3 separate regions of the Homo sapiens genome follow, and all the other regions are linked to region 2. The links come from fine-mapping of genetic effects on gene expression. A gene starts in region 2. Each other region holds a variant in brackets. All regions are shown on one strand. Distances are from middle to middle.

Region 1 (8,000 bases), 46 kb before region 2:
GAATTTTTAATTTAACTTAAATGTAAATTCTTCAAATAGCCACATGTGACTTGTGGCTGTCATATTGGACAGTGCAATTCTAGATCAGCACTGGCTAAGAGAAATATAATGTGAACCATATATGCGACATAAAACTTTCTAGTAACTATACAAAAAAAGGAAGAGGAAATAAGTGAAATTAATTTAGTAATATATTTTGTTTAACCCACTTATTAAAAATATTACCATTTCAGCATGGAACCAATATAAAGAGTCTTAATGAGATATTTACATTATTTTTTTCATACTTTGTACTAAGTCTTCAAAATCCGGTGTGTATTCTGTACATTTCACTTTGGACTGGCCATGCTCCTAGTACTTAATGGCTGCAGGGGCCAGTAGCTACTGTCTGGATGGTGCCGACTATTTAGTCGTTGCTGAGGAAGCGGGGCCTAGCAGGGAAAATGACTTTTTCAGTGGCATTCTGTCTGCAAGCCCTGTTTGTCTGCTGTCCAGCTTCCCCCTCTGAGAGATACCTAACTTCCAGCAGCAAAACAAAAAGAATTTAAGTTTTTTTGTTCCACCTACCAACCAGTTCCTAAATTTTGTGGACAAATACTTCATACGACATTCAAAATACGACTTATAAATTGGTGGGCTGATTAGATTCCTAGAAATGGAAATGAAGTAGATGATGATGGAAGCAAAGAGAAGAAATTGACTTGATCCTCAGAAACCTGGGCAACCCTGGGAAAGAGTAATGCGACTGGAAAGCTAAACAAACAGACATCACAGAGGGCTGCGTTTCTCACACTGGGGGGCTCCGGGCTCACACACTCAGGGCTCTCGGGATGTTTAGTTTCTTAAAATGCAAATACCAGCAGCTCTGGGATCCAAGTGGGTGATGTGGGGGAGTCGTGAGTTGGCCATCTTAATTAGCTTCCTAAACGATTATTACATCAAAGTATGTCACTGAGCTGGATTTATGAAATTCCATAACGGTCAAGGATTTGTAAAGAAGTTTGTCTTAGAAAATTAAAAGTATTTCTGGTCCTAGGTCATCCTTAGTCATAGTATGCTGGGCTCAAGGAACATAAAGAATTGACTGATGTCAAAGTACAGTTGCAGCATGGTTGGCTCATTTACAAACATGCTTGCATTTGAGGATGGGGAGAAAGCACCCAGGGCTCTAGAATTCCTTAAAAAACAGTATGTGGCCAGGTGCGGTGGCTCACGCCTGTAATCCCAGCACTTTGGGAGGCCGAGGTGGGCTGATCACGAGGTCAGGAGATTGAGACCATCCTGGCTAACAAGGTGAAACCCTGTCTCTACTAAAAATACAAAAATTAGCCGAGCGTGATGGCGGGCGCCTCTAGTCCCAGCTCCTCGGGAGGCTAAGGCAGGAGAATGGCATGAACCTGGGAGGCGGAGCTTGCAGTGAGCCGAGATCACATCACACTGCACTCCAGCCTGGGCGACAGAGCGAGACTCCTTCTCATTAAAAAAAAAAAAAAAAAAAAACCAATATGCTTCCTTTCATTCCATTTAGCAAGAAAAAGTACTCTTTTGCTTAGTCATTGCTTGTACCCTCTAGAGGGTGGCTACTGCTTTTAGTTCTGTTTTTTTTTTTTTTGCAGTTCGAGGGTAGGAGTTCGGCTAATGCAATAAGTAAACCATTGTTTTTGGTGATTCTGCATGAATTTGCTGCAGCAGCAGCTGCCTGGTATTTACAAGCAGGAAATCTACCATTGAAGTCTGGAGACAAGGAATAATACATGAAAGGAAGAAAGGAATGAAGGGGAGATGATGGTGCTTCAAATTTCCAATTCCATGAGAGATGCAAATGACACTCTCTCCCCACAGGGACAAGAGGGCCAGGGAAACTTCGCCTTGTTCAACCATCAGAAAATATGCAGGCTTAGACCAAAGGCATCTTCCTGCTACCTGTAAGGAAAAGGTCTTAAACTTCTAAGCCTCAATGACTCCACTGCCTCTTCATGGGCCTTGTTAAAATGCAGACTTCCAGTCTGAGACAGATGATGACTTGAGGGGCTCAGGGCCCTTGCTTGAGAAACCTGTCATCAGCTGCACAAAGTTGCTGCCATGGATCACTTATTGAATGCTTGCTGTGTGCAGAACGCCATTCTATGGGCTATATGTGTATTATCCCATTTTATCCTTATGACTATCCCATGAGGTCACTTGTATTTTCTATATTGTACAGATGACGAAACTGAGGCTCAGAGAGATTAAGTTACTTGTCTGAGTTCACATAAATGGTAAGTGGCAGTAAAGATTCAGCTCTATGTAGGTCTGGCTTCAAATCTTGTGCATAACCACCAGGCTAGAGGTTCTCAAAGTGTGGTCCCTGGGCCAGCATCATCAGCCTCACTGGGGGACTTGTAAGAAATGCAAATTCTCAGACTCCCCACCTGATGTACGAAACTGGAAACCCTGGGGCTAGGTCCAGCAACTGTGGTTGAACCTGGGCTCCGGGTGATGCTGATGCCTGCTCAAGGTTGAGAACCACTGGACTGGGCTAAGGTCTCTGCTCTCCAGCGGCAGCACTGCAGTCTGATGAGTCAGGGGACAGGAAATGCTTCCATAATAATATTGGTTTTGGTAACATGCTGCCTGCAGCTACAAAATGACAGTGGGGATAATAATGGCAGGTGAAATAGTGCAATTTTCCAGGTCACAGAAAGCTAGCACTCCCTCCATGGCTCTATAGATCCATCCACGAGAAGAGGAGCCAAGGCACATGAGTTCCCATCTCAGCCACTTTGTCACTGGGGATACTGGCAGCAGTTGAAGGGCAGGACCAGAAGCTAGGATTGGGGAAGGTTGGGAATGAAGTGCGGGGATGGAAAGCCTGCAGCTTTTGAAGGAGCAGGAAGTCTAAAATGGCCCAGAAATCAAAGGTGAGCAAACAAGTATAACATAGGTGATACCCTAGAAAACATGTACAGTAGACAATAGTCCCCCTTATCTGCAGTTTCACTTTCTGCAGTCTCAATTACCTGTGGTCAACTGTGGCCTGAAAATGTTACGGTATTTTGAGAGAGAGAGAGAAAGGGAGAGAGAGAGTGAGAGAGAAAGGCAGAGAGGAAGAGAAAGAGGGACCATACTCACATATTTTTATTACAGTAAATTGTTATAATTGTTCTATTTTATTAGTTGTTATTGTTAATTTCTAACTATGGCTAATTTATAAATTGAATTTTATCATAGGTATATGTATATATGGGGAAAATAGTAAATATAAAATTTGTTACTATTCATGGCTTTAGGCATGCACTGGGGGTCTTGGAACATGTCCCTATCAGGTAAGAGGAGACTACTGTATTTTTAAATTTAGGCTTCTGTTAAGCTGCTTATTCCCCTTCTGTTATAGCCTAAATCAATGCCTGAATTCCTGGGCTTGCATTTGTTAATGTATGTGCAGTGAACATGAAACAACTGAATCATGAAGCCCATGGTAGTGGGGCCATGGCTGGGAGCATGCTTTAGAGAGGTTGTCAGGTCATCAGCATAGATTAATTTCTTCAAGTAGCACCTGCTGGGAAGGTGGTTTAGCCCTGTCTTCTACTCCAGCAGCGCAGAGGGTAAGGCATTTTGCAGAAAGCATTTGTGGATTTTTTCCAAATCTAGGCAGTAAACAGATTGCATTCCCAGCACTCCCCCCAAATTCCCTTCATTTCCTAGATCTGTGGAAAGGAGCACATTGAAACAGAAATAGAGGAGGCCATAGAAATCTAACTGATGGGATCTGACTGCTGATCTAGATATTATTGTTAAGACAGAATTTTGAATTGATGCAGACAGTGAGATTGAGAAGGCTCTGCAATGAATGATACTGGGAGGATCACAGGTCCTAGTGTTCAGCATGAACCAGGACCAGAAGAGAAACATCTAATTAAGAAACGTAATGAAAAGGAAGGGAAGATGGGTAACCACAAGCACCCACCGTGGTTACACCTTTGACTTATTTGTATGTATAAAATCAGTGAGCATTACAACAGAATCTCTTGGATGCTGTCACAAAAATATCTGCCTTATGGGCAATATTATGCCAG[A/G]CTTTAAATACAGTTCTCAGGGGATCTACTCTGTTTTATATTGAAATTCATCTCATTATAATGTATTTCTCACTTCGGTCAAACAGTAGGAAAGTTCAGATTTACACAAAAGATAAACCAGGGACCAGTTATTTTCTCAACTAGAGGATTCTTCAGATTGCAAAAGGTGTCATCATATTTCTTTTAATTGCAAGCTTTAAATATTAATGCATTTAAAATCAAGTTTAAACCTAATTATTTTCTCTAGCTTGCATTTGCACACAGGGAGGTATGTGTATCTGTTGAATGTGTTTCATAATGGATTTTGCTCATACTGAGAAGTGGCTTGTGCAGGCATGGATGCGCCATGAATCAGCAGTTCTTGTGGGCACCATTATCTTCTGCACCTCTCTCGGATCCTGACATGAATAAGGCATAATTAAGTCCTCTCAGGTTTTCATTGGTTGAATTACATCAATCGCAGCTTTCAAGGTCTCAAAGAAGATTCCTTGACCTACAGATACTCTAATTCATAATCATATACACTCAGTGTATACACACATGCACACACACACACAATTTATTTAACTCGCTTAAGCCTTTAATTTCAGTTGATTTTGGCAGTAGGTTGTGTACAATTGATATCTGCAAGTCAGTCTGTGAATCAATACACAAATTATTTTTGAAAGAGTATTACTCACTTGGTGTTATGGAACCAAGGCCACTTTGCCTGGGTTGATCTACCCTGGTCAGAACTCATAGAAATTTGGCCAGAACCAGGTTTGATAGTTGACATGTCTCTTATTATCAAGTGTGAAAATCATGTGTTCCTTGGACACATTGGGGCAAACAACACACACTGGGGTCTGTTGGAGGGTGGGGGATGGGAGGAGGGAGAGCATCGGAAAAATAGCTAATAGACGTTGGGCTTAATACTTAGGTGTTATCATGGGATGGTATCACAGATCATCATGGGATGATCTGTGCAGTTATTCACCATGGCACACGTTTAACTATGTAACAAACCTGCACATCCTGCACATGTACCCCTGAACTTAAAATAGAAGTTGGAAATAATATAAAACAATTTTTAAAAAGAAAGAAAATCATGTGTTCATTCTATTTACTTTATGGCTTTAATCTGAGTCTCTACCCAAATCGCCAGGTTCACTTCCAGTTGAGAACCTCACGTCTCCACGGCCCTACACAATATATTCTTGACAGTCCAAACATGAGCCACCTTTAAGTCATTTCTCTCCACTTTTTAATTGGGTAGAGCTTGTGGAGCAAGAATGAAGTGTTGCTTCTACTTCCCAGGGTGATACCTGAGTTTCAGGCTCCACAGTACATCTTACAACCAAATTTTGGCTCTATTTAACTTATTTCACTTTCATCTTCCTGACGTGGAATATTCTAGGAAACTGCTTGAACAAAATGAACCTCATTGAGAGTGGACATCAACATGTGTTGAACGCTTGATAAATCAGAGACTGAAAGAGACTGGAGTGAACTTGACTCCATTCCAAGCTAGACAGGGCTGTGGGTGTCTCATGTGTGGTGCTGGTGAGTGCTGACAAACCCAGACTTTGGGAAAAGTCTTTATGTCAGACTATTGTGGGCTAGGGTGACAGATCACACTTTGATAGATGTCAGGTTCCCTTGAAGGGAGTAGACATTCCTAAGATTATGCATTCTGGATGGAAGTCAAGCCAGTGGTAGAAAATAAAAATTTTAGAGGCTGACCTTAGATCAAAGGAAGAAGACAAAACAGAACAGAACAACATAGCCATGAAAGACTTGTTCAGTTACTGGTCAGGAAATTCTGGGATCCTGAGCAGGTTGGCAGTGTGAGATGTTATGGACTGGCTGCTCCTCTGGCTCTATGGTGAACCAGTTTGAGTCCTCTGGCCTGTTTCTATGACAGACCCACCAGAGTTTATCAATCAGCCCTGCAGTTTTCACAAAATGCTCCAACCCTCTGCCTCAAGGTCCCTCGGGTAGGGGAGGAAGCCCAGGGACTCAGTGCTGTGATTTCTAACGCGTCAGACACATCACATATCTTATTTAGTCTCCACTCTTACCCAATAATGAATTATGGCCACTCTCATTTGATAGATGCAGTAATTGAGAAATAGAGAAATGTAATGGCCCTCCAGACTGTCCATGGCAGCTGTGGGGAGGGAAGGAGACCTCCAGGCCTGCTCTCTGGCTTTTTCCTAAGGTGCTCTTCCTCCTGCCAGCTGCCACTCTGACCAGCCTATCTGTTAAGTCCCTTTTGCCCCAAATCTAATTTTTTGGCACAGGTCTTATAAAGCAGAGTCAAAGCACAGGTGTGGCATTGTCCTTGGTGTCCTGGATCTGAATTTATGCTGCAGCTCAGGTCAAGTGTCCACCTGGTGACAGCCCCCGCATACCTGTGCTCAGTAACTCTGGCTAAGAGCCCTGGATTCTGACTTACCTTCTAGCAGTGGTTCACAAAAGTTAACATGCCACAGAACCACTTAGAGCAGGACTGATCAGTCAAAAGAAGAATAATACTTCACCACATGTAAGAATTAAATGAAATTTAAATTTCAGTGTCCATAAATTAAACAAAGCCAAATCAATTATAAAATACATGCAGCAGATATAGACATACCTCACTTCATGTAATCTGGGCACACAGCCATGTCCACTCATTTTCATATTATCTCTGCAAGGGAAGGGTTGAGCAATTGCCACAGAGACCATATGGTCTGCAAAACCTAAAATGTTTACTATCCTTCCCTTTCCAGAAGAAAGTTTGCCAACACATGGCCCAAAAGGCTTGTTAAAATACAGATCACTAAGCCCCAACCCCAGAGCTTCTGATTCAGTACGTCTGGGTAGGGACCAAGAATCTGCCATTTCTAATAATTTCCTAGATGATGCTGATGTTGCTGGTCTGAGGACCACACTTTGAGAACCACTGCCTTATAATAATGGCTGGTTATGCCCAAAGATGATCCTTTGATTTCTATAATTTTGTTATGCCCTTTAAATCTTTTTCCGGTCTTAGTGGAGGGCTGAAATGAGTTTACTTCTTCTCTAGCAAAGCTTTCTTTATGTTTACAGAAGATATACAGCAGAGGGGTTTGGAGCTGGACAGAAACCCAGTTCCACCCCCCGCTGGCTTTGTGACCTTGGGTAAGTTAGACTCAATTTCCTCATCTGATAAGATGAGGGTGTATGTAGGAAAAAACAGTTTTTTCCTCCCATATTCTCAACACAGAGCACTTCTGGTCACCACCTGGCTTGGCTCTCACTCCTAGAGATTCTGATATCATTGGTCTGGGGTATGGCCTGGATGTTGGGAGCTTCAAAATTATAAAGGGAGATAATAATGCAGCGCTGCCAGTAAAAACATTAAAGAGAGTCACACATATAATTTTATGTTTTCTAGGAGCCACATTTTAAAAGTTGAAATTAATTTTAATATAATATTAATATCTTATCATTGATAAATGATTAAAATAATATATTAATGATAAATTCTACTTAACTCAGTATATTCCAAATATTAACATTTCAACACATAACCAGTGGAACAATGATAGAGATATTTTACATTCTTTTTCTAAGACTAAAGCTTTGAAACTGAGTCTGTACTTTACACTTACAGCACATCTCTATTCAGACTGGCTACATTTCAGGGCTCAGTCGCGACCTGTGGCTTGTGGTCATTGCTTCAGAAAGCACAGGAGCAGTTAATGTGCGACCAAGATGGAGACCCACTGGGGTAACGGCGCGCTTGGTGTTTGCAGACCAGACCAAAGCTCCCGGATCACACAGGGGTTCTATCGGCATTGTTGTTCTTGAGGATTGAGGGAGTTGGCTGCAGCTTCCCTCCTTTGGGCTAGGAATTAGTTGTGGTCATTAAGGACATTCAATGAAGCTCAATTTAGTCTTAAAAGTGGATGTGTAGCTTATGGAACCTGTTTGAAAGCA
Region 2 (8,405 bases):
TTGGACTCTGACCACAGAACTATGAGCAAATACATGTGTTGTTTTCAGCCACCAAGTAGAAATTTGTCACAGCAACAACAGGAAACGAATACACCCTCCTTACAAACAATAACATGAGATCTAGAGTGTTGCCCAAGATTTGAATGAGCTTTGCTGACTCCAGATTCTAAGCTCTTACCTCTCATGCTGCTCTATCTGTTACATGTGTCCTAACCTCTCCTGCCTTTATGATTTCCCCTTAGCCAACTCAGGCAGGTTTAACAAATTATATAGACTGGGGGGCTTAAACAGCCAACATTGATTTCTCAGAGTCCTGGAGGGTTGAAATCTGAGATCCGGGAGCCAGCAGGAGCAGGTTCTTGGTGAGGGCTCGCTTCCTGGTTTACAGACAGCCACCTTCTCATTGTGTCCTCATGTGGTGAAAAGAGATCTCTGGCCTCTTCTTTTAAGATATTAATCCCATTTATGAAGTCTCCATTCTCATGATCTAATCACTTCCTAAAGGCCCCACCTTCTAATGCTGTCACACTGGGATTAGGGTTTAACATGAATCTTCAGGGGACACAAACATTCAGTCCATAGCACTTTCCCTTATGCTTCCCCTCACCCTGCTTCTTCCACTGCTGCTTATTTCCCCTTCCAATCATAAGTATTTCTGTCATCTCCTCACATCTTCGTGTATATGCTGGAGGCAGCATATAAATAAATATATCGGTGGGTGTTTGTGGTTTGTGCATGGAGTGGAGTCTCTGGGCTTTTGTAACCGTGGGACTCGTGATTTAGCAAACCCAAGGCCCTGACTGTGTTTGCTCCTCCTTTTGCTTTAGTAAAGACAGTGGCTCTCTTCTTTCCTGTGTCATTGACAGTTGGCCAGGCCAGGACTTCTGCTTTTTCAGAAAACTGCTTACTTCCTAGTCAGTATTCAGAGCCCAGTAACTGCTTGTGAAGTTTCCCTTCTCCTCAAGGTTATCAAGACTGCGGAAATGATGTCAACTTAGGCCTTAGTGGTTTCTTTCCTGAATTATTGCTCCACCTGGAGAAAACCCTATTTTCAGCCTCAAATAGCTTCCAATTCAAAATCTACACTCCTGCTTACTGCCCGAGGATCTTTCCAAAATGCAACCTCCTGGCCAAAGGGAGGCAGCCCGCCATTGTCTGGGGTCTTGCTCATGTCTTCCACTTCCTCTTTCAGCCCTTTGTGTTTTCAGCCCTCCCGCAGTTCCCTGAACCCTGTGCCTGGTCCCATTTTCCTGCCTTCACGCATGTCATTGTCTCTGCCAAACTTCTCCTCTCACCCCTCCTTTAGTCCACTTTGCCTGCTGATTAAACTCTAGACCACAGGGAGTTTTAGAGCATGGGTTCTGGAGTCAGGCAGGCTGGGGATCAATTTGTTTTAATTCCATCAATAGTTCCTCAATGTCTTACCTTCTCTGTGACCCTGGGGATATAATTCTGCCACTATTAGCTGTGTGGCCTTGGAAAAGTTCACTAGTCATAACATCTTTATCCCTCAGTTTACACATCTGCAACATAAGAATGATGCATGTAAAGTACTTAGCCTGGTGGCCTCCACCAACATGAGGTGTTATCATTAGTATTTTCATCAGTCTTTAAGCCTCAACTTAGGCTTGGTGACTCCTTTTCCAACAGATCCAGATACCAACCTCACCATCGTCTGACTACTATGTCCCTGGTGCACAATGCCTGCCTTCACTACAGCCTTTCACACAAAGCATTTACCCTGTTGCTTAATTGTCTGATCGTCCCACTCCCTTGGATGAGAACTGCATCTCTTCCATCTCTTATTCTGAGTGGCTTGGCTAAGACATTCACTGACTCCATGGGGAAACTTCACCTACAGAGGAAAGAGCCATCCTCCTGTGGGCAGGTGATGTGTCCTTGTTCTTTCCCTGACGTGCCCAGTCCTCTTGCAAGTGACTTGAAAGGATGCACCAGCCTGGCTGCAGGCAGAGGGTGAGTCTGGGAGACAGATCAGCTGTGGCAACCTTTATGCAAGGATGAATTGGAAAAACCAACCCTGACCAGTCCATTTATCTCACATCTTGCTTCTCATCCTGCACTGAAAATGAATGGGATACTAGTGGTCCTGACGCCATGGGAAAACCTAGAGTGACAAGATCAGCACTTCCAGCATCCAGTCGTTCATTCTCTTTTACTTATTTTTAATTTTTGTGTGTGTGTGCACTTCAATGTCCCTTATTTTTAAAAGTGAGGTCAAATTGAACAAATGGCCCTGGTGACTAGAGTGACCATCTGGACCTCTCTGGGCAGCTCTTTGGGTGGCAGTTGTAGGATCAGGTACTTGCTCAAGCACTGCATCCTCATCACTCCCCAGCTTAGAGTGAGGCCAATTCAGATGCTTAATCAACTTCTCTTTTCCATCTCCTGTAGTTCAAACGGCATTTTGCCCCCATCTCCCTCCAAAGTGGCAGATATCACAATGCCATGCGTTTGCACAAGCCAGTCCCTCTAACAGCAGATGTGATCCTGAGGCTGGGCTCCTGAGTTGCTCCCCACTTGGGAGCCCTGTATGGGATGAATTGCATCCCCTCAAATTTATGTATTGAAGTCCCAACCCCCAGTACAGTACAGCCCCCTTATCCAAGATTTCACTTTCCAAGGTTTCGGTTACTCTCAGCCAACTGCAGTCCAAAAATATTAAATAGAAAATTCCAGAAATAATTCATTAGTTTGACATTGAGCATCCTCCTGAGTAGCATGATGAAATCTCGTGCTGCCCAGCCCACCAGGAACACGAATTGTCTAGAATATCCATGTTGTCTCTACTACCGGCCTGTCCGTCACTTAGTAGCTGTCTCATTTATTGGGTCCAAAAACCATAGTATATGTAGGGTTCAAAACGATCTATGATTTCAGGCATCCACTGGGAGTCTTGGAACGTATTCCTAGCAGACTGGGGGGGGACTACGGTATCTTAGAATGTGACTGTATGTGGAGATAGGGTCTTTTTTTTTTTTTTTTTTTTTTTTAAGACAGAGTTTCGCTCCTCTTGCCCAGGCTGGAGTACAATGGCACGATCTTGGCTCACTGCAACCTCCACCTCCTGGGTTCAAGCAATTCTGCCTCAGCCTCCCAAGTAGCTGGGATTACAGGCGCGTGCCACCATGCCCAGCTAATTTTATATTTTTAGTAGAAACAGGGTTTTTCCATGTTGGTCAGGCTGGTCTTGAATGCTTGACCTCAAGTGGTTCACCCTCCTCAGCCTCCCAAAGTGCTGGGATTACAGGTGTGAGCCATCATGCCCTGCTGGAGATAGGGTCTTTAAAGAGCTGATTAAGCTAAAGTGAGGCCATGGAGGTGGGCCCTAATCTGATATGATTGTGTACTTATAAGAAGAGGAGATGAGGACACAGATGTACACAGAGGGAAGAGCACATGAGGAGACAGGGAGAAGATGCCACCTAGAAGCAAAGAAGAGAGGTCTCAGGAGAAACCAGCCCAGCTTCCAGAGCTGTGAGGAAATAAATCTGTTATTTAAGTCCCCAGCCTGTGGTGGTTTGTTATGGCAGCCCTAGCTGACTAAGACACAGCCCGATTGGTTGGTTCTGACACTTCTTACCACAGTTCACTGCATTCTCTTCACTGAATTGCAATTATCTGTTGGCGTATTGGGTTGGCCCGCTGGGGTGACAGGCCTGGCATATGCACTTTTATTATCTCTAGCACTGAGAAACCCTGGCATTGATAGCTGCATGCGAAGTGCTTGCTGAATTCATGAGAGCTACTGCTGCAGTGAAAGCTCTGAAAGTGTCCAGAGAGGGACAGGAATCTTCTCTTTGGGCAGAAGTGATCTTTTCACTTCACTTGCAAAGTACATCAGATGGAAAGGTAGCCCAGGTGTACGGTGTTGAGGAAGGGCCTACTGGAAGCTGCTTTTCCTAATTTTCAGCTGGTGAGGTTTGATGATTTGGTAGACTCACTGATCATTTTGTTCTTTTTTGGGTTCTGTGGTGTTAGTAAATGGCTATATTTAGATTCAATTTCTCTTTCTTGTACTCTTTGTTGTTCTGCCATTCTCTTCCGCTCCCAGTCCTGGCCCCACCGCTCCTTCTTCCAAAAGCTCCCAGTGGCCCTCCCAGACCTGCTGCAGGTGGAGAAAGTGTTCAGCTGCTGGTCCCCTCTCCCCTCCCACCCCAACTCCAACTGAGCACTAGCGGCTCACATCTGTGGGCCTTGCTTTCCCCATAAACACACATGGGTGTACTGCAAGGGCTTACCGCAACTCTGGTAGAGCACTTCCAAGCCGCTGTCGCTACAGACCACGTGTGTGGGCCAGGCTTTCCCACCGCCGCCTCCACTGCAGCTGGGAAAAATCAGAGTCCAGAGGAAGAGAGTGGCTGTGAAACCCTTCATGGTGGGGGCCTGTATGGGACACACAGAAAAATAACCGGCCAATAAAAAGCCTGTAAAATTTCTTCCTCTCCCCTCACCAAGGCAGTTGGATGTTCAGTTTCACTTCTCAAATTTTAGACTCGCTGGGAACCACAGTCAGAAGTAAAAGGCTGAGAGCAGAGGCATTTGAATACTGTTCCCCCAGGACCTTGAATCTACAGGTGTGGCTGGTCTGGTCTGGGGTAGGATGCGTGCTGACTTTCTGCTTTCACAGGGAGAGGGTCAGTAGTGATGCGTGAACTTACCTCTTGGGGGCCCCTCAGAACAGCCTCCACCCCCAGGTGAGGCTGTAAACTTGGGAAAGACAAAGCGCAGGCCACCATCTGTTTCCCATCTCCAGCCCCCGAGTCTCTGCAGGCTCTTGATGCAGGCTGTGTATGGACCCAGGGACCTGGCTGCAGCCAGCAGGCAGCAGTTGATAGCACGAGGGCTACAGAATGACATTTGGAATCTGGAATGAGGCTTTGGCCCTATTGTCACTTTCCTCTCCTCTGGCTTTGGCTCTGCTCTTAGGTTTGGGATTTTAGCAGTGAATTGTCCAGCTGCAGAACAGACCTTGTTTTGGGAGCTGCAGATGTGGTCTCTGGAGATGAGGCAGAGGCAATAGCCCTGAGAAGTGAGCCGTGTTCTATTTCTGGGTTTGGCTTGGTAGAAAAAGTAGGAAGGGTGGGGAGGTGGGGCCACCCTTAAGGAGGCTGGTTTGCTGGTTTTGGTGTTAGTGGGATCATTGACATCACATCTCACTTTCTCTTCAAAGCCAAGATTCTGTCTTCCTTCTTCCATGTATCTCTATTCTGCTGCAGGACAGCAAGGTTTCTCAGTCTTGATTCCTCAACCCCGCCCCAGCTTCACCTTAATGTAAGAGGACCAGAGTCAGTGCCAAGGTCAGCAGATTTCAGGAGCAATAGAAAACACTATTTTCCCTGGGAGGAACAGCATTTTTCTGAATGCACTAGGTAAATTTACTATTTCTGCTGATGGCTAAGCAAAAATTAGAGTTAGCTCAAAACTTTTTTTGAAATAGGTGGAACATAATTACCAATAAATTAATTGGTAAATAATTTGGATTTCTTGATAGACATCAGAGAGTGGTCATTTGGAGAAGGAACAGTTGTGGATTGATTATTTTTAGGTACCTCTGCAAATAAGTTCAGTGATGATGGCTTTCAACAGCAGTTCTCAAAGTGCGGCCTGGGAAGATGACAGCCTCAGCTTCCACTGGGGGCTTGTTAGAGATGCAAATTCTGGGCTACTCAAGACCTATTAAATCAGAAACTCTGGGGGGCGGGACTCACCATTCTGGATTTTCACAAGCCCTCCAGGTGTGCCTGATGCAGTCTCAAGTTTGAGAACTGCTGGCTTTTACAGAACATAAAGCGAAGGTTGAGCCCCAAGGGAGTGGTGGGAAGTTGCTCTAAGAAGAGACAAGGTGGCCCCTCTGGCCTGTGTGAGCGGAAGGCAGCTGCGCTGTGAGCAAGATCTCGGGAGATGAGAGTCTGAAGCTTATGGTGAGAGCAGCGGCCCTGGTGGAAGCGTGGTAGCCCCTAGAAGGTCCAGGATGGAACACAGAAGCTTTCCCTTGGGATATGTGAGTGCTCCAGCAGTTGTAAAGAGAGCTCTGAACATATGTGAGTGAGGAGAGCAATTGAGGGTGAGAACTTCCTTCCCTGCAAAGTGCGTCATGATTGACACTGGAGGAGGAGTCCAGGAGTGCAGGGCAGGGAGCAGAAAACCTAGCAGAGAGCTGTGGGCAGCTGTGGCAGGGAAATGGTCTTAGTATGTTCTGGCTGCCATAACAAATACCTTAGACTGGGTGGCTTAAATGACAAGCATTTATTTCTCACCATTTTGGAGGGTGGAGGTCCAAAGTTGGAGATTAAGGTGCTAGAAGATTCAGTGTCTGGTGAGGGGCCTCTGGTTCACAAATGGTGCCTTCTGGCTGTGCCCTCACATGGTGGAAGGGGCGAAGGGTTTCTCTTAGGCCTCTTTTATAAAGGCACTAATCCCATGTATGAGAGCTCCATTCTTATGACCTAATCACCTCCCAAAGGCCTTTCCTCCTAATACCATCACCTTGAGGCTTAGGATTTCAACATATGAGTTTGGGCAGGGCCACAAACATTGGCTTTATTGCAGAAACAGTGTCATCTGAAGACAGGGGTACAGATTCTTGAGAATCAAAAGACCTGGAAATGAAAGGAATCATAATTCAGGGATCGCACTAGCATTTAGAAATATTCCAAATGGACCAATCAGGAACCTTGTGATCATGGTGACCCTAGGACATTGGTCTTCAGGCTAGAGTGGTCTTCAGGGCATCAGCGTCAGCTGGGGGGCTTGTTAACATGCAGATTGCTGGACCCCACCCCAGAGTTTCTGCTCCTGTGTGTCTGGTGAGGCCTGAGAACCTGTGTTTCTAACATGTTCCCAGGTGATGCCAGTGTTGTTGATCTGGGGCCACATTCTGAGGACCTCTGGTTTAGCTTACAGAATTTGATCATTTGCAGAATGTACAATTAAAAAAAATCTTCTTAATAAAATGTTTTGTTTTATGACAGATGGCATTTTATATAACACATATATAACATACCCATATAGGATTAAGAGTAAGCCACATTCTCTAAGGAATTCTACTTACTAGTTCTGCCTACTGAAAATGGGATTTGATTGAAATCATTAGTTATGGCCGTCTAGTTCAGAAATCAACCCATAATGATGTCTGGAGTTCTTTAACTAGAACCTTTATAAAGACAGCCAGAGTGTTCTTTGAGAATGTCCTATTCCCTAATTATAGAATAAAATTAGAATCGGTTTATGGTAGTTATTTAAAATATGGTTATGTCTACGTAATGGTAACCAAACACACACATACTGTCAGGCTTTGATGCTGACTTCTAATCTCTTAGCAGGCTGTAGCTGAAGAAGCTGTGCTCTGGTCTCATTCAGATTTCTTTTCTACTTTTTGGACAATCCTCCTCTTCTTCCATGTCTCACACTGCTCTCCTTCATATATATATATATATAATTTTATTTTATTTTTTTGAGACGAAGTCTCACTCTGTCACCCAGGCTGGAGTGCAGTGGCATGATTTCAGCTCACTGCAACCTCTGCCTCCCGGGTTCAAGTGATTCTCCTGCCTCAGCCTCCCAAGCAGCTGGGATTATAGACGTGTACCACCATGTCCAGCTAATTTTTGTATTTTTAGTAGAGACAGGGTTTTGCCGTGTTGGCCAGGCTAGTCTTGAACTCCTGACCTCAGGTGATTCACCCACCTCAGCCTCCCAAAGTGCTGGGATTACAGACGTGAGCCACTGCACCCACCCTTGCTTTCCTTTCATAGAGGTCTTCTTGAGGACGGTGCCTTTCTTTTCTTGCAGAGTAAAAATATTCTTATCAAGATGACCATCCCTAAAGCCGTTCTTAAGGAGAAAATGTTTGTTTGAGGAGAGACTTAAAGAATCAAATGTGAGACTCTGGGGGCAGGAGTCCAGCTATGTATGTAAGCAAGTAAGGGTGAAGCTGTGCCACAAGAGAAAATACAATACTCCAGGGAGTGAGGGGAGAAAAAAGAAAGGCCTGGAGGGGAGAGAGGAGAGGAGAGGAGGAGAGAAGGGGAGAGGAGAGATAAGCAGGTGATTGGCTGCTGTGGAGTGGAGGGAAGCAGCCTGCCAGCAGGTGGGACAAGCAAAGGTCCCTTAGGAACAGATTCTGCATTGCTTCCTGTGCAGTGTGCAATGTGACAGCCCTCTCCACTCTGTGACCCACAAAAGGTCAGGGAAAGGGGGTTTGGGCCAATGTAACCTACATTACATGTGCCAGTAGATGGCAGACAGTCCTAACTAGTCTTGACGCTACACAGTGATGATGTAGCACTCTGTCTCCAGTGGCAAATGTACCTTCCTCATCATTTGTATCCGACTGTGGGTGCTCTCCTCTCATTTCCCTCAGATCTTTATTATATTAGGCAAAA
Region 3 (8,000 bases), 35 kb before region 2:
GCTGAAGAAGGGAGGAAGGGAGGGAGGGATGGGGGAGAGAAGGGAGAGAAGGAAGAAGGGGAGGGAGGGAGGAAGGGGAGGGAAGGAGGAAGGGGAGGGAGGGAGGGAGGGAAGGAGAAAGGACTGACTGTGGTTGAGGAGCTCGGGGTTGGCCCAGCTGAGGGCAGGTGGAAAAAGTTAAATAGGGACGGACTAATGATGAGTTCACCATTCTGAGGAAATGCATGAACGTACTTGATTAATCAGAAATGTCTCCAGTAAGTTGAGAGAGGAAAACTGACTTATGATTTTAAGGTGGGTTAGCTAAGAAAAAAAAAAAAGTCCCAATTTGAAACAAAGTCAGATCACTGGGCAGAAAGATTTCTGAAATGATAATTTTAAATAAACCCCTTGGCCAAAAGCAAGACACACTCATTTGTTGTATTGTTTGTTCTTTTATTCATTCATTCATTAAAGCTAAGATTGGAGTCAGCCTGCCTGGGTTCAAGCCATGGATCCTTCAAGCTCTGTGACTTGGTGCAAGTTCCTAAACCCCTCTGTGCTTCAGTTACACATTTATGAAGTTGGAATATTAATGTAGTATTAACTTGTAAGGTTGGTGTGGGAAGTAAATGACTTATTGGGTCTAAAGCTCTTAGAACAGGGCCTGGTACGAATGCTCAATCGTGTTAGGCATTTTGCTCTGCGTGTGTCTGTATTCAGAGCTCTCTGTGTGTCAGCCACATTTGAAATACTGGGAATAAAAAGACAAAGGTGATATGACCCTACCCTCAAGCAGCTCGTGGTCCAATGTGGAAGATACACGGCAGTAAACCAGGACAGTCCAACATGGCAAACGCTAGGATACAGTGATGTGCCACACACTCGGGAGGGATGGCGAGGGTGGTGAGGCAGCCAGGCTGGTTCTGCCCTCTACAGATCCCAGCAAAGTTCCCCCGACTTCCATCTGGCCAATCCTCCCTTAAGTTCCTTGTTTTCTTTTGTCTGCATCCCTCACTGTAGAAAGGAGATTCCAATTTCTTCTAGATCTTTCATTTAAAAGGAGTAATTGCAGCATTTCACAAGGAATTTACTGTTTAAAATTCTAGCTCTCTTGAATGAGAAAATAGATAAAGGAGTATTTCTGAGATGTGGGGTGAGGGGTGTATTGGGGGTATGCCCTGCCTTGGCCAGTGGGAGTAGGAAGGAGACCCTGGGAGGGGAGAGCAGCTGGGAGAGAACCACTCCTGGGGAAGGACAGTCAGAGAATAGAGCCAGGTTTTAACCACACCGCGGAAGCATCTCAGGGCCTTGGTGAAGCTGTGGGTAAAGACAAGGAGGAAAGGAGAGGTGGGGACAGGTGGGGGAAGGTGACCTGCCCTTTCTTCAAGGCTGTATGGCAGGCGGTAGAGGGTTGGTGCACTGCCGAAAAGGTAGCTAATATAATGGGGTTTCCGTTTCTCTACTTCGAGTGTAACTCCCGGATGCCCTGCTAGTCAATGACCCACGTGGGAAAGGTGGTGACATATCATAAGCTTCATTTTTTTTTTTCGTTTTTGAAGTCCATTACTATATTAAGGACATCCTGCCACTAAGGAAGTTGTGGAGGGAAAACCTGGGAGCACTCTGAACCTCAATGGATTTTTGGAACCTCTTGGCTCTTTCTGCTGCCAGCCCTTTTTTATAAGATGCTGCTACTCACAGTAACAATGTTCTGTTTTAAAGCATCTCATACGTGTCATTTCATTTTGATATTCACAACAGCCCTGTAAGGTAGGCCTATGGAATGGGCCTTATTGTTATTTTTCTGCAACACATGCTGATAAGTGAGGATAAGCTCGTCCAAAGGCGAGGGGCAGAGACAGAGCTCTGGTCTGGGCGTCCTGGCCTCAGATGCAAGTTCGAGTTTATCTCTCTGCAGGCCCCTGCCAGCAGTGAGCAAGACAGATGGCTTACCTCCTTTCCTTCTTCCACAGAAAGAAAACTTGGGCAGAGCCGCCTCACAGATGGGATAGGAGAAATTCAAAACAGATGAGCCTTGAGACATGAGAGCTAGGTCAAGAAAAAGCTCTTTGATGTCCTCTCCTGGAGGAAAGAGAAGAACAGCTTTACTCTTACTGCGTGTTTCACTGTGTATCAGAGGCATTCACAGTATACAGCAGCATGAGCTAAAGAACCTTTTGTTTCCATTAATCTTCTCTGTGTGGGGAACAGTTTTCTTCTTTCCTTGGTAAAACAGCATTTAGGCAATGCTACAGGGGATTATGATGGGGCCCTGCGTATGAAAGGTGGCTGTTTCTCAAAATACCTGCTTGGAACAAGGTAGTTAATCAGCTGAGCTCCCCACCCTGATGCTATGGCCTTTTAATGTGATGTCTGCAGGTCTGGCTTCTGGAATTTCTCAGTTGCATAGTATCATTTGTTCCCCATGATGGCGGTGGGGTGTGGTCACGCCTACATACACCTGCTGCTGTTGCCAGGGAGGTATTGCAGCACAGGTGCACAGGAAGCTGCAGCGGGTTCCATGGTGGTGGCTTCCAATTCTCTCTTTTTCTCCATTCCTCCCTTTTATGTTCCACCCACTCTTCTATTTCTCTTTTCTCGCTTTTTCTCTCCCCATAACATTTCTCCAGCTGCTGCTAGAGTCCAGATACTGTGTAAGATTCTAGAAATACAAAGATGCGTGAGAGTTCTTGATTTCTATGAATGTTCCCTCCATTTCTCTGGAATGATTCCACATGCTAAGTTTATTAAACCTCTCTACTTTGATTTTGATATAACTGCTTTGGAAAAGGAGGTCGTCTAGTAGCTATAGAAAATATATTGACCAACTATAATTGCATGATCATATGAAAATTAAACAATCAGAAAGTGCTCTAGCTTACTGATTGGGGTAGGAGAGAAAATATTACATCTCCTCCTTGCCGATGTCAAAGTTTAAGAATTTGTATTAACTATTTGGGATACAAAATAACACAAATGACAAACCGTACCGCTGGTAGTAGATTTATTTGTTGCTGAGATAACTAAAAAAGTTAGGAGATCCTGAGTAGACATTAATACTTAATCTCAAAATATTTTCCTTTTTTTTTGCTGGGTATACTGATTCCAGGTGCTTATATCATCCAAATGAGTGCCTAGAGTCTTTTTAATACAAAAGTACAGCTTTAAGTGAGAGTTCTACCCTACCTGAATATAACCCAGAGAAAGATTTGAAAATGAAGATATAAATAGAGTTAATTCCAGAGAGTGGTGAGGGAACAGTAGTTTAGCCAGTCATTACAGTTAACATAAGTCATTGGGTGTGTGGAGTTGGAAGAGGCTGTGCAATGTTTTATTTCATGCTAATCATTTTTTTTACTTACTCAGAATAATTCCAAATCTAATGTTGATATTTGATTTTAATTGCTTGGA[A/T]CACTTTTCAACAGAAAAGCCAAAATCTTGTAATGGATCTACGAAGAAGAAAACAATAGATTAGTTGCGAGTACATCGTATATTTTGCAAACATATTCAAAATTTGCAACAATATTGTTTTCACATGAATTGCTACATTTATTCAAAAGCATATTGCCCAACACTTTTTAAAATAAGCCCATGATATTTTCATCAGCTCCCCCCCGTGTCTTCAAAGCCAACATCATGTTCACTCTGACAACAGGGGGCCTCCATCCATGGAATAAACAGGGTCTTGCTAGTTGGGTTATATCTTTACTTGTTAATGTTTTTATCATAGAAAATGTTTATCATTGCCTGAATTTTTTTAGTTCCTGAACGTTTGGCCTTAAAATTGCTCATGGATTGCATAGCGGATTTAATAAAGTATCTATTATTATTATCAAAACAGAGGGAGATACAAAAGTTAGGAGAGCTTGAGTAGACATTAATACTTAGGCTCAAAATATTTTCTAAAAAGATTTTCAAAGTTAAGACCTGCCTTTCTAATTCCATTTTATCCCATCCCATCCCAACCCATCCCATCCCATCCCATCCCATCCCATCCCATTTAATGTAATGCTTCCTCCTCCAAATATTCCACTATGTACAAGGTATTGTGTTAGATATGATAGGGGCTATAAAGATAATATTTTCTGCATACAACTTCTGCTCATTCACAAAGCTCCAATGGCTTATCTATGCCTCAGAATACAGTCCAGAAATGAGCGACTGGCTCCAACTTCCATCCTCCACATCACAAATCCATCCTTCATTCCTTGAGGCCAGAGTGGCAACATACACACCAGCACATTCCCACCATGTTTGATTTGCTTGTGTGCTTTCTCCCATTTGCAATGGTCTTAGTCTTTTTGGCCATTATCTAAATCCTCAGGTCTTGCTCATTCCCATCTTCTTTGTGAAGGCTTCCCTGCCCCCATATATTCTCTTGCTTCCTTGAACTCTTAAAACAGCGATGTCTGGCATTCTTGGTAAAGTGTACAAACATGTATCACTCTGCACTTTGCTACGTGGCTTATCCTGCAACACTGAATCTAAACATGAGATTTCTTAAAGGCCAGAGCTGGTTTCTTGTTTTGTTTTGTTTGTTTTGCTTTCCATTTCCTTTTCCTTTATGTTTCCCACTGGACTGGAGATAGGAGAGCTATTTTTAACAGAGGGTTTACCTTGTACTAATAGCTGAGCCTTGTACTTTAGGAGTGTTTTCCATTTAATTCTCTAGGTTCCCCAACACCTAGCAGAGAGCCTCACAGCCTCACAGTCTGATCCACAGTAAGCACTCCATAAATGTACATGTTGAGTGAATGGATGGGCCATATATTGGGGCTGTTTCTCAGCTCCAAATCCAGCCCTCTTTCCTCTGCTTTTTCACTGGGCTCTCGGTAATCATGTTTCTCCTTCACTGTCTGCCAGTCAAGGTAGCAGAGAGATGGAGGCTGGAGTCGAAGAAGGGACTTGCTCCTTCGTGAGTACTTGCTGGGAGTGTCACTGGTGATGGCCCATCATGTTGGCAGTGGCAGTTGGTTCCAGTTTCCAGCTCTCTTGCACCTTCCCAGCTTCAGCTGAGACTCAGCTCTGCGGGGCCCTAAGCTACTGCAGTAACAGCACATCAGAAGCTGTCACCCTTTCCTTAGCAGCCTGTGTCTCAGCTCCACAGGGTCCTTCTGTCAAGCATCCAGTTTCTAATCCCCACAACCTCTGCCTTTTGCTCTCCCAGCCTTCAGGGGTCCTTTCTTTGCTCTTTTGGTTCTCCAGCAACTGGTTCTCTAACCAACTTCCTATATCAAATTCTCTCTGTTAAAATAACTGATATGGTCTTCGTTTTCCTGACAGCACCCAGACCTGCAGAATAAACAATAATCTGAAGAGATAGGTATGATTTACCTCATTTTACTGTTACGAAAATATAGACTCGGAGATGTTGTATTAACTTATCTAGATCCCCACACTAGAAAGTGTCAGAGTCAAGATTCAAAGCCAGAGTTAAAACCAAACAAACAAACAAATTGCTCCCGGGTATTGTGCAGTGAAACTCACAAAGTAGAACCTCAACTACATATGTTACTTATTTGATTTGTAAGATTGCCCAGAATATTTTGTGTGCAGGCATATGGCATCTGGTAGTTCTGTTTCATAACTGATTTCCATTTCAGCTTAGCTATGAGCTCACATTTGCCAATGTAGTGTTCCAGACAGTTTTATCATCCACATTGCTGACCTGGAAGATGCATCATTGTCTATGATATCTGCAATGGAAATGATCACTAGGCAATTTCAGCCTTGCAAATCTAACGTAAGTACACTTTTGTTTGATCAAAACCCCTTTGGTCCAGTCACTAATTTTCCTAAGGGTGGGAAAGAGCCCTTTTGTCTTATGCTCATTGGACTCCTTCCTAAGTATCTCTGTGCTGTCCCAGGGTTTCTTTCAGCCTGGAAAATAGGAGCAGGGGGTTGGAGACGATAGTTCCTGCTACATCCTTGGCACTCAGTATTGAAAAAGACAGAAGCCAATGAACAGATGCTTAGGAAGGTGAATCCTCAAAATTGTGGATAAATTTAAGTTGCTATCCAGGCAAAATAAAAGAGGCTAAGTACGTATTGTGTTGTTGATTAGCAGCTATAGAATTACACTGTATGTTTATCAATATTTTAAAGGTATAGATAGAAAGAATCAACTAAGGGCGGGAGAAGGAAATAAAGCATTTTCTTGGTACTAGAAACACATTGTTGTTAGGAAAATAATCTCAATAAAGAACAAAGTCACAAAGAAAGCTGTAGGCTGCATCTCTCTGAGGATATGTATATAAAAGCAGAAAGACAGATTGCTTAAAAAGCGCTTAAGGGTTTGGTGAGCTTTCCTAGCAGTTATTTCAAATTTATATGCAAGAGTGATATCTTTGAGTGTAAACATGCAGTTTGTGGTCCTCTTGGGGAAAGTGACATTGGTTCTTCCTCCTCCCCCAACCCCACCCTCTCAAACTCATATCCTTCTCTGTATTTATTTGCATTTCCACTCAGGCACTTTGCATGTTTTATATTACATTATATTTGTTTGTATACCTCTGTCATTCCTCCACTAGATACTGCAAAGCTAACTCCCCAGTGCCAGGGCTATACATAATGTCTTAATATCATACTAAATCTCCAGTGATTGTTTGCTGGATGAATAGTAGTGGTTATTTGTAGTAAATTTGCCGAGAACCTTAAAGCAGGATTCCTCAATGTCATCACTATTGACATTTTGTTTTGGATATCCTTTGTGGTGGGTGCTGTTCTGCACATCATAGGATGTCTAGAAGCATCCCTGGTCTCTACCCACCAGATGCCAGTAGCATCCCCATACCCTCTAGTTGTGAAACCAAAAATATCTCTAGACCTTACCAAAGTATCCATGAGGGATAAACTCACCCCTGGTGGCGATCACTGCTTTAAATAATCACTGTATCAATTTCCAGGCTTTACCTATCCTGCAAATGCCTCAGAATCACCTACCAATATAAAAGATGGTAGGTTGCATTTTAAAGTAGTTCTCCTTCTACAGTATGAACAGTGACGGACAGGCTGAGAGCGGAGAGACTTTCCCTTGGACCCTTGCCTCAGTAACTTTTAATACATGTAAGACGGATCATCTGACTTTGGACTTTCTGAAGCAATAACATCGGAAAGTTAATCAGAGTTGGCGTTCTGGGAATTCAAGGGCAGAGATAAGTGTTTCCTCCAGATACTTCACTGTATTTCAGCAAATGACCTGAGGAAAGAAGTCAAAACTTCATCACGAAATAGAAGACTGTTCATTTTCAATATTTCTTCCTTGGCCTCTATGTGGCACTCCCTTGCTGTCTGTCCTGTTGACTTCTATGGCTTCCACCCAAGGGAGGACAGCATTATAGTGGGTGAATCCAGCACACCCCAAACTGCCCCTGCTCCCCTCTCCCCCGGGCATGTGGGCCCTCGAAGGCAGGCTTCTCCAAACCAGCAGCATGTGAACCCTGCCAGAAGTGAGGAAGAGCTCTAGGAGAGCAGCCAGCAGCATCTGTTTTGCATACAAAGGGCAGCAACAATCAAATCTCTTCTAGAAAAGTTTTCTTGGACATTCATGGAGTAAAATAGAGTTGGATAAACAAGCCAGGTTTAGAGTGAGCAGCGTTTGAACAAATATCAGCTCCAAAGGTATTGTTGTGCCTTCCACCCTCCATTAGTGGCCTAGGCTGGGCTAGACCTGGGCAGCTGTCGAGGGGAGGACAACCTTGTCAGAATGGCTTCTATTAACAGCTAGCAGTGGGCTTTCAACTGGAATCAGTAGGAAGAAGACAAAATCCAATGACACAGACTCTGGAAGTGAAATTCCTCAGCAGAGGATGGTGGGGGCCCGGGTACACTCCACTGGACCAATCCTTGATTTGACTTCAGGCAGCCGGAAAGCTTGGATGTATGTCCCTAAGTCCTGGAGGCCATGGATGTAGCTCCGCCCCCTGTGGCCTCTGCGTTGCTGGCTGGTTAGTTTGAGGCATAGAGGAGGGCCCAACTCTTACACAGCTAGTCCCATTTTCCATATTCTAGCTCTACTT

Evidence for each region.
Region 1: its variant is fine-mapped to the expression of LY86 in whole blood (INTERVAL, PIP above 0.99).
Region 3: its variant is fine-mapped to the expression of LY86 in whole blood (TOPMed, PIP above 0.99).

What each region holds. Positions count from the first base shown.
Region 1 is chr6:6,630,505-6,638,504 of GRCh38, reverse strand. The region is part of intron 3 of LY86 (lymphocyte antigen 86); the gene reads right to left. Among named protein-coding and RNA genes, the nearest start is that of LY86-AS1, 12 kb to the right of the region's middle. The variant A/G (reference allele first, on the strand shown) is at 4,056.
Region 2 is chr6:6,584,725-6,593,129 of GRCh38, reverse strand. LY86 (lymphocyte antigen 86) reads right to left here and starts at 4,410. Exons shown (of 5, transcript NM_004271.4): 1 at 4,260-4,410. The coding sequence starts at 4,395. The region is part of intron 1 of LY86-AS1 (LY86 antisense RNA 1); the gene reads left to right. RefSeq lists enhancers at 5,884-6,013, 6,024-6,113, 7,938-8,047.
Region 3 is chr6:6,620,357-6,628,356 of GRCh38, reverse strand. It overlaps LY86 (lymphocyte antigen 86), which reads right to left. Exons shown (of 5, transcript NM_004271.4): 2 at 3,345-3,431; 3 at 1,936-2,064. LY86-AS1 (LY86 antisense RNA 1) reads left to right here and starts at 5,531. Exons shown (of 8, transcript NR_026970.1): 1 at 5,531-5,725. The variant A/T (reference allele first, on the strand shown) is at 3,394.